Linked DNA regions of Homo sapiens: region 2 is linked to region 1. Evidence: fine-mapped expression QTL. Tissue or cell type: whole blood. Region 1 holds a variant in brackets; the other region holds the start of a gene. All regions are shown on one strand. Distances are from middle to middle. Region 1 overlaps FOXN3 (forkhead box N3). Region 2 holds the start of FOXN3 (forkhead box N3).

Region 1 (4,230 bases):
AGGGTCTCACTCTGTCACCCAAGCCGGAGTGCAGTGGCACAATCATGGCTCACTGCAGCCTTGACCTCCCTGGGCTCAGGTGATCCTCCCATCTCAGCCTCCTGAGTAGCTGGGACTACAGGCGTGTACCACCAGGCCTGGCTAATTTTTTCGCATTTTTTCTAGAGATTGGGTTTCACTATGTTGCCCAGGCTGGTCTTGAACTCCTGGGCTCAAGTGATCTTTCCTCCTTGGCCTCCCAAAGTGCTGGGATTATAGGTATGAGCCACTGTGCCTGGCCAGGGATTCGGTGTTCTTTTTTTTTTTTTTTGAGACAGAGTTTCACTCTTTTTATCCAGGCTGGAGTGCAATGGGGTGATCTTGGTTCACTGCAACCTCCGCCTCCTGGGTTCAAGCGATTCTTCTGCCTCAGCCTCCCAAGTAGCTGGGATTGTAGGCATGTGCCACCATGCCTGGCTAATTTTGTATTTTTTTAGTAGAGACGGGGTTTCACCATGTTGGTCAGGCTGGTCTCGAACTCCTGACCTCAAGTGATTCACCCGCCTCGGCCTCCCAAAGTGTTGGGATTACAGGTGTGAGCCACTGTGCCCGGCCTGGGATTCGTTTTGATAGCAGAACTCAGCAGTTTCTGAGGTAGACACACACCTGCCGAGGTCAGCAGCTCCTACCTTTTGATCTCACAGGAACATAATTGGTGAGGAGCATGGGATGCTGGGATTGAGGAAGATACGATGCTTGGGTTGAGTCATTTACCTTTTAAATTCTCTACCATAGGCCTCTGGGAGACGAGGGGAGGGTTTCTGGGGCAGGAGGCCGGCTTGCTGAGCCCTGGCTCTCTGGACAGCCACTGGGACAGATAGCTCAGGCATCAGTGCCTTTTCCACGTGGTTGCTGCCACTGTTCCCAGGGGCCAGGTCAGTTGGTCTTTCTGGGTAGATTCTGTTTGTTTAATTTTTTCCTCCATCCCCCTACCCGTGAATCACAGTGTGAATTTATCCCCTGCGTCCAACCCCCGTTCTGTCTCCCTGACCCTGTGTTCCCGCTGGAGCACTGGTCTGGCAGCCTCTTACCTGCAGTTTTCCCTGGCACCCCTGTCCTCTCCCTGGCAACCTCGGGCATATCCTCTGGTTCCCGGGTGCTTTGTCCATATCTTACCCAGCGCTGACAAGAACGCTGGAGGAATCGATAACACTGACAATGTTATTTGGTCCCTGCAGCTTCTCACATGTGGGTCGGAGATGGTTTCGGATTTATCTTTGGAGCCGGGTGCCGCCACATCAGGGTGCAGTCGGTGTTAGACACCCTTTGTTGAAAGGGATCTGCTTCATGGTTGGAGTGAGTGCTTGTTCTAGAATTGAGAGGCACTGTAGAGGCAGTGTCTCCTTAAAAGTGGATGTGTTGGTTGGCCGGATGCTGTGGCTAAAAGCCAGGCTCACAACCCAGGAACTCCCAGGAAAGTTCCCTGTTGAAAATTAGGGAAGATGGGTGACTGGTGATCTCGTGGCCAATGGCCACTCCGCAAGAACAAACACCAAACAACCCAGTGTCTGTGTTTCACTGAGAGAGAAGGGCTCATGATTATTTATTAAAATAAAAAAATCATAACTGAAGCTCTCTGGCTTAGTACACACACCCTGTCACTGTTACCTGGCCAGGTACTTTGAACAACTTCCAGTTATGGAAATATGGTGATCAAATTATGTGCCAATTTGATAAGATCACATTGGAACATTTAAAAATAGATGAGTAACTACGGACAACCAGAAGATAAAGTGGCAGTAGGTGGGCCAGTTGTAATCCAACCAAGGGCATCCATGTGTCAGGCCCACGTTACCTTTATTGCCGTCCATAAAACCTGACTCGTTTGTTACTGTGTGCAGCATGGAAATCACCTTAAAGAAAGTGGAGGTACTGGAAGGAGTGCGCGCCCAGTTGCAGCCTGAAGTCAGAGCTGGCTGTCAGCTGCCCCCTCCACTTCATTCAATATGCTTAGAAATTCTTTTACTAGGCCTTGAGCTTTAAAAATGAATATTTATGTATTTAAACACATTATTTATGTAAATGCAATGAGTGGTGAATTTTATTTCCCCTCATCCCTACTAGCACTGTCAGCTTGCCTTTCAAACTTTTTTTTAAAAAAGGCACGAAGAGGGCAATTTAATGTATGTCTTTTACTTTACCATTTATCCTCTTTGTAATTTGCTTATGCAATTTCGACTTTAAGATTGTGGGTGTGATACAAACAACTGTTAGAAAAAAAGAGGAACATGCCCACGTTCCAGACAAGTTTACCACATCATTGTACATTCCTGTTTCCTATCAGGAGACAAAACTTTTCAAATGTGCATGTTTTTTTCTATAATAAAGTTTTTTTTTTTTT[C/TC]TTTTTTTGAGACGGAGTCTCGCTCTGTCGCCCAGGCTGGAGTGCAGTGGTGCAATCTCGGCTCACTGCAAACTCCGCCTCCCGGGTTCATGCCATTCTCCTGCCTCAGCCTCCCGAGTAGCTGGGACTACAGGCATCCGCCACCACACCAGGCTAATTTTTTTGTATTTTTCAGTAGAGACGGGGTTTCACCATGTTAGCCAGGATGGTCTCAATCTCCTGACCTCGTGATCCACCCGCCTCGGCCTCCCAAAGTGCTGGGATTACAGTCGTGAGCCACTGGGCTCGGCCTATAATAAAGTTATTACAGAATAACTTTATGTTAGTTATTCTAGTTACTTTATGTTTCTCTGTAATAATTATTTAACTTTCATGTTAAATTTTAAAATCTCTCCATGTGTACTTTGTGTGTACGTGAGAGTTTATGGCTTCATGCCACATAATATATTGAGTTCATTTGAGTAATAGTTTGACTCTTTGAAGTGGCATAGCATGGCAGCTATTAGAAGTATATAAAACGATCCGCTTTTTAGCTTCCTGTGTGTTTTGCATGTGTTTGAAGTTTTTTTAAATGCTTCTGTGCCTCTACCCTTTTTAGTCAGCCTATGTCATGCGATGAGGTTTCAGATGGAGAAGAAGAGTTAAACCCTTATTTGCTAAAGGCCCTCCCAAGACAGAGTGGTAAAACTAATTTGGGAGGATCCTAAGATTTAGTTGGATAAAACCGATTTAGCTAGATAGTGATTTTAAAGATGCCACCTCTTTGGCCTTCTGACTTGGAGTATGAGGGGTGTGTTTCTGTTTCCTTTTCTTTATTAGAACTTAGCAGTGTAGAGTTTGACAGTATTTCAAAGTCAATATAATTTGGATGTTTTCATGATCATTTTATGATTGATCGTTGTTAGCGTGCTAGCTCTTGACTGCTTTTGGCACTTGGGAAACAATAGTGTAGAGAGTACAAAAAAATAACTATTTTCAACCCAAACAAATACTGAGTAGATCTGTCAGCCTCGGGAGGTGACACACTGCAGATGTGTGCTTCCTGTAGCCTCCCCCCTGTGAAAATGACATTGACGTGTGGTGGGGAGAAGGAGGAAGAAGCAGGGCTCTCTCAAAATAGTGAGTAACGGAACAGAGATTCCTGCAAAGCGGAAGCTCGGGGAAATTCTGCGTTTCTTTTGTAATTCCCGCCCCCACACAACTCTGTCACAGCAGGCTTTTCCTAGAGATTAATTTGGTTTTAGGCAAATCATGGGATTATTTTGGTTTTATTTAGGTGTTGATGCAAGCAGATTATTGATTTTTCCTGCGTCCATTCAAACACGCATAAGCACACACACATACCGTCCAGCTTCTCTACTACAGAAGAAGCATTTACAAGAGTCCTTACAATTCTACCCATGGGCCTAAAAGAATTCCTTCTCCACCTGTTCCACATGCGTTCCCTTGCAGATGGAGGGGCGTTCTGAGGTATATGAGGTGGATTTCTGAAAGACCTGTGGGGCATTAAAATCATCACAGAGCTCAGGTGTCTGAATATCACATAAGTGACACACTAATAGTGATTTCCGTCTTTATAGCTTTTAGAACACATCTGTAAAATAATAGCAAGACAGGTGCAAGAGTGGAAGCCTTTTCATATCTGATATTTAGAGGACATGTCGGTGAGTTTGAAATATTCTGTGGCTGGGATTATCAGGGACTCTGTATCCAGCTCCTGATGCCAAGAACCTGGTGCTGTCTGCAGGGCGCCAGAGCCTCTCCTCCCTGCCTGTTGGTGCTGATCCCAGGAACTAGGGCTACACTGAGGCTCATGGGGCCAGGATCTTGAGAAAGAAATGATAACTTCT
Region 2 (4,230 bases), 50 kb before region 1:
TCACATCCCCTCTTTTTGAACTCTGAGAAAGCAGGAGGGGACTGGGGCCGGTGAAAATAAGGTGCCACCTCTACTTAATATAAAGAGATTTCTGGCTATTGTGTGAGTGTAGCTGGGGGACTTGGGGGTGGGGTTGGGGGCTGGGGATGGAAGAGGAAGATGTAAGGGGGCGACTTCGTCCTCTCTAGGCCAGCAAGGGCTTGGACAAAGGTCTCTGGCCTTGGTTCCTCTGGCGGAGAATAAGCACCCTCAACTGACGCGCTGATGGAGGGGCAGGACCTGCATTAGCCGGAGCTACAGGAAAGCAGGGTACACATTGTCTCATCCTGGCTTTGTTACCACTTCTAACCCTGAGAATCTCTGGCGTGAGACTTCAAAGATCATCTGACTTGTCTCTGCCACCTTGTGCCTTTTGCTTAGTGACTTTGGGTAGGTCGCATCAAGTGCTCAGTAATCAAAGGGGTGGGGCTGGATGACCTCAGGCTACCCCTGGGCTTCCACCTCCTAATTGTCTCCAGATGGGGAGATGCCACACAACTTGGAAGTAGTAAGGTCTCCGGTGAGTCTGAAAGGCACATCTTTGCTGAAGACTTGTCACCTGCCCTCTTGAACCTTTGTTAGGGGGAATGACTCTCAGATTGGGGGGGGGGGGTCTATTTTTTGAGACAGAAAAAATTTTCAGAAGCCTAACTGGTGTTTCCCTTAGTCCCTCCTTTTGGCTAGGTTTAAAAGTACTGCATGCTAGAAAGCTTTCTCCAGGTCTACTCGCTGTTTTTTTCTGTAGTTTTCAGACCGCTCACGATGTCCTGTCCACTGGCTCAGGAGGGGGTGGCAGGAAGGGTGCCCTGGGCTTCTCCTCTGTAGAGGAACCAACCAATTTGGCTACCTGGGAGTAATGTGCAATCACATTTTTATTTTTGTCACCACCAGGGTGTCCTGTTGGACTCTCTCCTCTCATCCTCTCCCAAGGCGGCTGGTTGGTGTGGCTTTAGCAGTGGGTGCTATTATTTGGAGGTGCCTAGAGACTTAGAGTGGTGGCTGCACCATTTCGCTGGGTGGCTTGCGAATTGTCAGTCTGGTTCCTGAGAGCTCAAACTGAGATGGAAATGAGACCTGTTTTCTCTCTAGGCCGGCCGGGGCGTTCCGCACAACCCACTTGAGAGGCCCCACCGGCGTGGCCTTTAGGACGGTGCCTCTTGTCTTGTAATGGCCACCGGCCCTCCCTCGGGAGACACGCGGCCACCTGGGTGGGACGCTGCGGTGCTTACCTCCGGGACACGAGGTGGTCGCTGGGAGAGGGCTCGGAAGGCCCTGGGGGTCCTATCAGGACGCAGCACTGGGGAGACGTGGAATCTCCTCTTCTCACCCCCACAAGCCTCGCCCGCATCGTAATTCTTTTTATTTTTACTTTCGAGCCATGTAAGGCATGCAGATGGGGTAGGAGCGTTCCCGCGACACGTTGCCAGCAGCGCAGCGCCGGCCCGCTCGTGTGGCCGGAGCCCGGGGAGGGGACAGGGCACGCGCCGCCTGACCCACCTGCCCCACCGCCCACGGTCGCGGCCGCCCTGGGTCGCGGGACCCGCGCCGGTCACCCCCGCCCCGCGGGGCCCAAGAGGCGAGGCCGCGCGGCCCAGCCCCGGCCTCCGCCCTGGCTGAGTGCTGGGGCGCGCGAGGGGCGCGGGCAGGGTCCGCCCCGGCGGGTCAGTGCCCCGCGCCCCAGGCCGCTGGCGGCCAGGCCCACGTTTTCCCTTTCTCCGGCTCCCTCCGCCCTCCGCTCTGTCCCTCCCTCCGCCCTCCTCCCTCCCCGCGCTTCCCCTCCTCCTGCCTGGTCATGTGTCGCCTTTTTTTGTTTGCAGTGGAAACAATTTCTCGCCGCTCGGCGCGCCCCGGCCCGACGCGCCGCGGCGGAGGCGAGCGGGAGGCGGGACGGGGCGGGGAGAGCGGCGGGGCCGGCGGGAGGACGCGCGGCGCGCCCGGCGGACGCCGCAGGTCCCATGCCGCGCCGCGACCCCCGCGCCCCTGCCGCCCGCGCCCGCGGCCGCCCCCCGCCGCCCGCCGCCCCGGGCTCGCCGCGCCGCGCCCGCGCGTCCTTAGCGGGGCCACCGAGCGATGCCCGCCGGGCGCCCGCGAAAGTTTGTCGGCTCCTGCTGAAGGGCAGCGGCGCCCCCGCACCCCCGTGCCCCGCTCCGGCCAGGTGAGTTTGCACCCCGCTCCTGCCGGCTCCCGCGTGGGCTCGGGGGGCACCCGGGGCGGGAGGCGCGTCCGAGACGGTCCTGGAGACTACCTCGCCGCTCTGGGAAGACGAGGGACCCCGCAGGTCCTGGGGGGAGGGTCGGGTGTGGACCCCGGGAGCCCCCGAGCCGGGAAGTTGCCGGGTCCGAAGAGTTTCCTGCCCCGACGTGCGTGCTGCTTCCCGGTGCCTCGGTTTCCGAAAAGACGCCCGCAAGGAACAGAGTTGGTATTGTCTGCGGAGGACGGGGTCCCCGCCGTTCCGGGCCGGGGAGGGGGTTCCGATCAAGTGGAGACCCCAAGATGAGAAACAGGCTCCTAACAAAGATCACCCCCCGGCCAAACTGTGCAGACTTGGCACAGGCAACGAACGTCTCCGGAGACCCCCGAGGCCCGACCCCCCTCATCCCGGCCCTGTTTGAAACCCTCCTTGGGCCCTGGATAAGTTGGGGGACGGCGGGCTTTTATTGATTTGTTTTCGAGGCTCGCCGCGGTGCGGCCAATAAAAGGTTTATGACATCTGACCGGCAGTGAAGGTATGCGAGCTCCCAATTGCCCTGTATATGGGGATAAGAGCAGTTTCCCCCGTTGCCCGGCAACGCCGCTGATTGACGCGGGGTGCAGCCAATCGCCACTCCCGCAGGTCCCCTTGAAATGTTTTTGACAAGTACAGTAGACGAGAGTGAAGCGCGTGCGTGCGCGCGCGCGCGTGCTGGGTGGGCGGGGGTGACCCGGCCCCCCAAACTCGCTACTGCTCGGCTCTGGGAAGATTTCTTAACTTTTTAAAGTTCGCATCGAACATCTGTTCAGAGCTGGGCCAGTAATGTCTTTGTCAGTTATTTGGAGACCTTCTGTTTACTAGGCGAGAAACTAAGCTTTCTTGCCGCATTTTCTCCGTTAAAAAATAAAGAGGGTAACAAAACACAGCAAGTCATAAAAAAAACAAAAGAGGGTGTGTGTGTGTGTGTGTGTGTGTGTGTGTGTGTGTAGAGAAAAGTTGTAAGGAGGTCACCAGTGAATAACTATTTGCGTATCTGGTGGAGCAGCCTTGTTGGCAGCAGATTAAAAATGTTTGCTTAACTGCAACTCACATGATCCAGATTCTTTTTTTTTCCCTCTGAAACAGGAGGAAAAAAAGATTTGGCGAAATCTGTAGTTAGAGTATAATAATGGAAAACTCCTCAGCTGTGGTTTCTGGGAACTGTTTTTTTTTTTTTTTTTTTTTTTTTTTGGTTATTGTTGTTTTGTTTTGTTTTTACATGGAACTGTAGTGATCAGCAGCTCTTCACCCTGTTGGTATAAAATGCGGGATTTATAGGGATGCAGTGAGTGGTTGGAGAGTACGGGGTCCCAGCACAAAACGCACACATGATCCAAGGGTACTGAACTCCCATAACCCTCTCTTCGTGACAATGCCACTTTTTCTCCTAAAACCATATTGCTGGCAGTGTTTGTTTAAAACAAAAGGAAACATGGAGAATAGCGTGTTAGTTCCTCTGGGAAGCTACTGACAAATAAGCAAATTAAAAAGAAAGAGAGCAGCATGTTGTCATAGCAACAGTGCAATTAAATTACTTTACTGTCAGCCATGATATAATTTTCCTGTTTGGAAGCTCAGGAGACATAAAACTTTCATTTAGAGCTAAAGTTGACTTCAGTGGCTGGGTAGTTCTGTTTTATACTCTACTGTGGGCATATGCTGGTCATCAGAAAATTTTCTGATGGGATCTGAGGAAACTTTAAGAAAGACAAGTGGTGCTATAATTCGTTCATAAAGAAGTTAAAAGCAGGATCAGACCAGACTCTGTTGTATCCCCAAGCCAAAAGATGCTAGCTTGTTTTTTGTCTGAAATGTGTCAGGGTAACCTCCTTATTTGACAGAAAGAAATATTCCCTGTGAGTGAACCCAAGACGTCTGGAGCATCCTGCCTGGTCTGTACTGCAATGCCTCATGAAGTTTTCTCTCCTTAAGAGTTGGGCATCTTGGCCAGGCGCGGTGGC

What was found.
Region 2: FOXN3 starts here. The variant in region 1 is fine-mapped to the expression of FOXN3 in whole blood (INTERVAL, PIP above 0.99).

The regions. Positions count from the first base shown.
Region 1 is chr14:89,364,411-89,368,640 of GRCh38, reverse strand. All of the region lies in intron 2 of FOXN3 (forkhead box N3), which reads left to right. FOXN3-AS3 (FOXN3 antisense RNA 3) reads right to left here. Exons shown (of 2, transcript NR_188029.1): 2 at 3,633-4,230. Among named protein-coding and RNA genes, the nearest start is that of FOXN3-AS3, 16 kb to the right of the region's middle. RefSeq lists an enhancer at 3,127-3,176. The variant C/TC (reference allele first, on the strand shown) is at 2,381.
Region 2 is chr14:89,414,835-89,419,064 of GRCh38, reverse strand. It overlaps FOXN3 (forkhead box N3), which reads left to right and starts at 1,832. Exons shown (of 6, transcript NM_005197.4): 1 at 1,832-2,194. FOXN3-AS1 (FOXN3 antisense RNA 1) reads right to left here and starts at 1,711. Exons shown (of 2, transcript NR_036500.1): 1 at 1,269-1,711. RefSeq lists silencers at 1,451-1,740, 1,781-1,990 and enhancers at 1,686-1,980, 1,605-2,137, 2,138-2,671, 2,686-2,980.